Linked DNA regions of Homo sapiens. The protein of the gene in region 2 purifies or fractionates together with the protein of the main gene of each other region. This does not show direct contact. Each region holds a gene or a part of one and is shown on either strand. Other genes may lie near its edges.

What was found.
Region 1: the proteins of STARD7 (region 2) and ZNF346 purify together in Homo sapiens (affinity purification with mass spectrometry; one large-scale study listed by BioGRID and IntAct). This does not show direct contact.

Annotation. Positions count from the first base shown.
Region 1 is NC_000005.10:177,025,454-177,029,272, reverse strand, and holds part of ZNF346 (zinc finger protein 346), read right to left. Parts: intron 1-3,819.
Region 2 is NC_000002.12:96,195,066-96,198,884, forward strand, and holds part of STARD7 (stAR-related lipid transfer protein 7, mitochondrial isoform 1 precursor), read right to left. Parts: intron 485-3,819; coding exon 276-484; intron 1-275. UniProt on the Homo sapiens protein: May play a protective role in mucosal tissues by preventing exaggerated allergic responses.

The DNA.
Region 1 (3,819 bases), on a different chromosome or scaffold from region 2:
TAAACTGAGGTCTTTGGGTTGTTATGAAGGCTTCATTACATAGGCATGGTTGATTAAATCACTGGCTATCGGTGATCAATTCAACCTTCAGCTCCTTTCTACCCTCTCAAGATGGGGGGCTGTAACTTCCAAGCCTCTGAGCACATGGTTGGTTCCTATGGCAACCAGCCAACCAGAATGTGGTAATCTAGGGACTTCTCAAAAATCACCCTATTAACATGTACCAAGGTGTGGCTGAAAGGGGCTTGTTATATGGCCGGGTGCGGTGGCTCACGCCTGTAATCCCAGCACTTTGGGAGGCCGAGGAGGGCAGATTACGAGGTCAGGAAATCGAGATCAGCCTGGCTAACATGGTGAAACCCCGTCTCTACTAAAAATACAAAAAATTAGCCAGGTGTGGTGGTGGGCGCCTATAGTCCCAGCTACTTGGGAGGCTGGGGCAGGAGAATGGCATGAACCTGGGAGGCGGAGCTTGCAGTGAGCCGAGATCGCACCACTGCACTCCAGCCTGGGCAACAGAGCGAGACTCCATCTCATAAAAAAAAAAAAAAAAAAAAAAAAAAAAGAAAGGGGCTTGTTATAAATAACAAAAGTCTGTTTTTCACCTTTCTTGCTCTGGAGCAGTTCCAGAGGTGTTTCAGGAAGCAAGGACAAAAGGCCAAATATTTTAACAGAAGATACTCTTACTGCTTTAGTCACTGAGGAAAGTACAAGGGTTATAGAAGCTGTGAGCCAGGAACTATGGAGGGAAATATATATATATATATATATATATAAAACGTCACAAGTGCTTAAGAGAGAAATTTATAATTTTAAACATCTACATCAGAAAAGAAGGATCTCAAATCACTCAAATCAGCAACATAAGATCTTACCTTAGAAACTAGAAAAGATCAAGAAAATGACAAATTCTTAGCTAGACTAACCAAGAAAATAATCAGGGACCTCACATCTGTAATCCCAGTGCTTTGGGAAAGCAGAGGCGGACAGATCACTTTAGAGTTCGAGGAGTTCAAGACCAGCCTGGCCAACACAGTGAAACCCCGTCTCTACTAAAAATACAAAAAAGTTAGCCGGGCATGGTGACACATGCCTGTAATCCCAGCTACTCGGGAGGCTGGGGCAGGAGAATTGCTTGAACCTGGGAGGCGAAGGCTGCAGTGATCATTACTGCACTCCAGCCTGGCAAGACCCCGTCTCAAAAAAAAAAAAAAAAAAAAAAAAAAAAAAAAGTGACACAAGGAGAAACAAAATATTCTGTGTACACTTAAAACAAGTAAAGAAAATGAATAATCAAATACCTTTCCACAAAGAAAAGCCGAAGCCAGCTGGGTGCCATGGCGCATGCTTGCCTATAATCCTAACCCTTTGGGAGGCTGAGGCAGGAGGATCACTAGAGGCCAGGAGTTTCAGACCAGCCTGGGCAACAGAGCAAGACCCTCTATTTAAAAAAACACAAAAATTAGCTGGGCATGGTGGTATGCCCTTGCAGTCCTAGCTTTGAGTTTGAAGGAGTCTGAGGCTGCAGTGAGCTATGATTGTGCCACTGCACTCTAGCCTGGGCAACAGAGACCCTGTCTCTAAATAAATAAATAGAGAATTTAAAAAAAAAAAAAGGAAAGGAAGAAAGAAAAGCTTAGGCCCAGGTAGCTTCACTGGTGATAACTTTTTTTTTTTTTTTTTTTTGAGACAAAGTCTCAACTGTGTTGCCTAGACTGGAGTGCAGTGGCACAATCTCGGCTCACTGCAACCTTAGCCTCCTGGGTTCAAGCGATTCTCGTGCCTCAGCCACCTGAGTAGCTGGGATTACAGATGTGAGCCACCACACCTGGCTAATGTTTGTATTTTTACAAAAACACAAATTTTACAAAAATTTACAGGGTTTCTCCACGTTGCCCAGGCAGGTCAGAAAATAACTTTTATCGGCTGGGCGTGATGGCTCACCCCTGTAATCCCAGCACTTTGGGAGGCTGAGGCGGATCACCTGAGGTCAGGAGTTTGAGACCAGCCTGACCAACATGGTGAAACTCCGTCTCTACGAAAAATACAAAAATTAGCTGGGTGTGCTGGCAGGCGCCTGTAATCCCAGCTACCTGAGAGGCTGAGGCACGAGAATCGCTTGAACCCGGGAGGCAAAGGTTGCAGTGAGCCGAGATCACACCACTGCACTCCAGTCTGGGCGGAAGAGTGAGTCTCTGTCTGAAAAAAAAGAAGATAACTTTTATCTAAAGAATCCAAGTTTTTTTAAATGATCAGGGCCCAGAGAGATATTAAAATGAGATAGCAATCACTTCCTATTCTCCCTTTTTGAGCTAAGATTCATCTATCAAAACTGCTTGCTATTGCCACAAGTGGGTAAGGATTAACCTAATAATGCCCTACCTGACGCTATATCCTACATCCTACAGCTTAATGTACAGCCAATCACTAACCAATGTTATTTCTGTAAATCAATGAGAATTCTTGATAAACAACTTTGTATGAGTCCCACTCCCTGTCCACATTTTTTTGCCTTTAAAAATCAAGTAAACTCTTCAAATCATATTTTGTGTGTTAGCCTCTTCCTTGCAGGTCAACACTTCTATAAAATACTGTAAAAAGAAATATTACCAACTGAGTGTGGTGGCTCACACCTGTAATCCCAACACTTCGGGAGGCCAAGGCTGGTGGATCACCTGAGGTCAGGAGTTCAAGACCAGTCTGGCCAACATGGTGAAACTCTGTCTCTACTAAAAATACAAAAAAATTAGCTGGGTGTGGTAGCACCCTCCTGTAATCCCAGCTACTCAGGAGGCTGAGGCGGGAGAATCACTTAAATCTGGGACAGGGAGGCTGCAGTGAGCTGAGATCGTGCCACCACACTCTAGCCTGGGCGATAGAGTGGGATTCTGTCTCAAAAAAAAAAAAAAAAAAAAAAAAATTACCAATCCATCCTTCACAAACTCCTTCAGAAACAAGATGAGGAAGGGGCTGGGCATGGTAGCTCACGCGTGTAATGCCAGCACTTTGGGAGGCTGAAGGGGGCAGATCACTTGAGGTCAGGAGTTTGAGACCAGCCTGGCCAACGTGGTGAAACCCCATCTCTACTAAAAATACAAAAATTAGCCAGATGTGGTGGTGAACACCTGTAATCCCAGCTACTCGGGACGCTGAGGCAGGAGAATCGCTTGACCTCCTCCAGGAGAACCAGGGAGACGAAGGTTGCAGTGAGCTGAGATCATGCCACTGCACTCCAGCCTGGGTGACAGGGTGAGACTGCATCTCAAAAAAAAAAATAATAATAATAATAAGGAAGATCTACAAGAGAAAATTTCTCAAATCTTGGGTTAAGATAAAGAGTTCTTAGATATGACACTAAAGCACAATACATAGGATAAAAAATGATAAATTTAATCTCATCAAAACTTAAAACTTTTGTGCTTCAAAAGGCACTGTTTAGAAAATGAAAAAACAAGTCACAGTCAGGGGGAAATACCTGGAAATCATATCTATAATAAAAGACTTGTACCCAGAATACACAGATAACTCTTACAACTCAGTAGAAGACAAACAGCCCAATTACAAAATAGGCAAATGATGTGAATAGATATTTCACCAAAGATCTACAAATGGGTAGTCAGCCCCTGAAAAGTTGCTCAGTATTATCAGTCTTTAGGAAACCACAATGAGATATCACTACATGCCCACTAGAATGCCTATAATCAAAAAAGACAAGTGTTGTCAAGGTTATAGAAAAAGCGAAACCCTCATACACTGATGGCAGAAATATAAAAGGTGAAGCCATTTTGGAAAACAGTTTGGCAGTTCTCCAAAATGTCA
Region 2 (3,819 bases):
CTTTCACCTAGCGGCGTTTCAGATCTAAAGTACTAAGAGATCTTAAAGGCAGGTTCAGAAACTAGAAGTCTTAGTAGAGCAACAAAGAAAGACAAAGAGGATGTAAGCAAAGACAACACTGAGACATTTGTCATCTGGGAGAAGAAAAACAATAAACAAAAAACTACGGCAAATTTTCTGAGAAACAACCAGAACAGTTTAGAGAAGTATGAAGAACAGAAATCCCATGCACCTGTGCAACTATGGAACCCAAAAGATAGCCACACTGGGCTCACCTCGGTACTGGTAAAGGTGGGTGCCTGTAATTGGGCGCCGCCACAGCTTAAAGTGTTTCTTATCCATCACCATTTCCCAACGTTGCTCTTTGCCCTCTGAATCTTCATTCCCTTCTGTTTGGGCTTTTGGTTCTGGAGGGTGGTGCTGGACTCCAGAGCTCTGAAACATATTTGACATTTCTTCCAACCGCTTCATCTCATTAATAGATCTGTAAAGGGGAAAAAGAGCCATGGTGAGGTGGTTAGTCAGCCCTGTGAAATGAAGTGTCCACACAAAGGTCTGTGCAAGAAGGTTATACAGTAAACCACAGTATGTAGTATATAAACAGGACACAGTATAGTCAATAAAAACTGAGTTCCTGAGTTTGAATCTTAGTCCAACACTCACTAACTAGATTATTATTTAACCAGTTCCTATTTCTAAATCTATAAAATGGAAATAATAATAGTACCTATCTCGAGGTTGGCTATAAAGATTACAAAGTGTCAAGTGCTGCAGGGCGTGGTGGCTCACGACTGTAATCTCAACACTGGGAGGCAGAAGAGGGTGGATCACGAGGTCAGGAGCTCAAAACCAGCCTGATCAACATGGTGAAACCCTGTCTCTACTACAAACACAAAAATTAACCGGGCATGGTGGCGCGCAACTGTAATCCCAGCTACTCAGGAGGCTGAGGCAGGAGAATGACTTGAACCTGGGAGGCAGAGGTTGCAGTAAGCCGAGATCACGCCACTGCACTCTAGCCTGGGCGACAGAGTGAGACTCTTGTCTCAAAAAAAAAAAAAAAACAAAAAACAAAAAACAACGAAAAAAAAGTAAGTGTCAAGTGCTTAATATCTATGGCCAGGCACAGAGGCTCACTCCTGTAGTCCCAGCACTTTGGGAGGCCAAGGCAGGAGGACTCCTTGAGGCCAGGTTCAAGACTAACCTGGGAAACACAGTGAGACCCTACCTCTAAGAAAAAATTTAAAAAATTAGCCAGGCATAGTGGCACATGCCTGTACTCCAAGCTATAGGCTGAGATGGGAACATCACTTGAGCCCAGGAGTTGGAGGCTGTAGTGAGCTACAATTCTGCCACTGTACTCCAGTCTGGGCAATACAGTAAGACTCTGTCTCTTTTTTTTGTTTGTTTTTTTGAAACAGAGTCTCACTCTGTCACCCAGGCTAGAATAGAGTGCCATGATCTGGGCTCACTGCAACTTCCGCCTCCTGGGTTCAAGTATTTCTCCTGCCTCAGCCTCCCCAGTAGCTGGGACTACAGGCACGCGCTATCATGCCCGGCTGATTTTTTGTATTTTTAGCAGAGACAGGGTTTCACCGTGTTACCCAGGACGGTCTCAATCTCCTGACCTCATGATCTGCCCGCCTCGGCCTCCCAAAGTTCTGGGATTACAGGCGTAAACCACCGTGCCCAGCTACACTGTCTCTTAAAAAATAAAATAGGCTAGGCGCAGTGGCTCACGCCTGTAATCCCAATACTTTGGGAGGCTGAGGCAGGCGATCACCTGAGGTCAGGAGTTTGAGACCAGCCTAACCAACGTGGAGAAACCCTGTCTCTACTAAAAATACAAAATTAGCTGGGCACGGTGGCACATACCTGTAATCCCAGCTACTCGGGAGACTGAGGCAAGAGAATCGCTTGAACACGGGAGGCGGAGGTTGCAGGGAGCCAAGATCGTGCCATTGCACTCTAGCCTGGGCAACAAGAGCGAAACTCCGTCTCAAAATAAAATAAAATAAAATAAAATAAAATAAAATAAAATAAAATAAAATAAAATAAAGCCAAGCACAACGGCTCACGCCTGTAATCCCAGACTTTGGGAGGCCGAGGTGGGCGGATCACCTGAGGTCAGGAGTTCGAGACCGGCCTGGGAAACATGGTGAAACTCCATCTCTACTAAAAATACAAAAATTAGCTGGGCATGGTGGTGGACGCCTGTAATCCCAGCTACTCGGGAGGCTGAGGCAGAAGAATCACTTGAACCCAGGAGGCTGAGGGTGCAGTGAGCCAAGATCGCACCATTGCACTCCAGCCTGGGCAACAGAGTGAGACTCCATCTCTAAAATAAATAAAAAATAAAATAAAATAAAGTGTTTGTTATCTGGCACGTAAGTAGCCCTCAAATGTTAACTATGAAGGTTTATGGTTTTAAAATGTCAATTGATATCTTTTGTCCGTTTTTTATTGGGTTGTCTTATTATAAGTATGTATGTATTTTTCCCCTTTGTTTTTAAATTGATAAATTCACATACCATAAGATTCATTCTTTTACAGTGTACAATTCTGTACTTGTTAGTATATTCACAAGGTTGTGCAACCATCACCCCTAATTCCAGAACATTTTTATCACCCCCAAAAGAAACCTCTATCTATCATTAGTCACTTCCCATTCCTGCCTCCTCCCAGTCCTAGGCAGCCACTAATCTACTTTCTGTCTCTATGGAGTTGCCAATTCTGGACATTTCAAGTAAATGGAATCATATGATATGTAGCTTTTGTGTTGAGCTTCTTTCACTTAGCATACTTTCAAGTTCAACCATGCTGTACTTTATTCCTTTTTATAGCTGAATAATATTCCATTGTATGGATAGATCGCATTTTGTTTATCCATTCATCAAATAAAATTTGTTTCCACTATTTTATTATAGTGCTATTATAATAGCACTATATTATATTACTGCTATTATAATACTGCTGGCCGGACGTAGTGACTCATGCCTATAATCCTAGCACTTCGGGAGGCCAAGGTGGGTGGATCACTCTGAGGTTGAGTTCGAGACCCAGCCTGGCCAACATGGCAAAACCCCATTTCTACTAAAAATACAAAAATTAGCCAGGTGTGATGGCAGGAGCCTGGAATCCCAACTACTTGGGAGGCTGAGACAGGAGAATTGCTTGAACCCAGGAGGTGGAGGTTGCAGTGAGCCAAGATTGCACCACTTCACTCCAGCCTGGGCGAAAAGACAAAACTGTCTCAAAAAAAAAAAAAAGAATACTGCTATGGACATTTGTGTACAAATCTTCATATAGACATGTTTTCAATTCTCTTGGGTAGATTCCTAGGAGCAGATTTGATGGATCATGGTAACTATGCTTAACTTTTTAAGCAACTGCCAAAATGTTTTCCAAACAATTACACTATTTTATATTCACATCAGCAATGTTTGAGGATTCTAACTGCTCCACATCCTTGGTTCCAATTGCCCCACTTGTTATTGTCCATCTTTGTTATTCCAGCCAACTTAGTGGGTGTGAAATGGTATCTCATTGCGTCTTGACTGGTATTTCCCTAACCTTTTCATGTGCTTATACTAGTCTTGATAGTATCCTTTCATGCATAAAAGTTTTTAATTTTGATGTTTATTTTTTCTTTGATTGCTTGTTTTTGGTGTTATAGCCAAGAAACCACTGCCTAATCCAAGGTCATAAGAACTTATGCCTATATTTTCTTCTAAGAGTTTTAGAATTTTAGCTTACATTAGGTCTTTACCCCATTTCAAGTTAATGTTTGTGTATGATAATGAGGTAGGAGTCTAAACT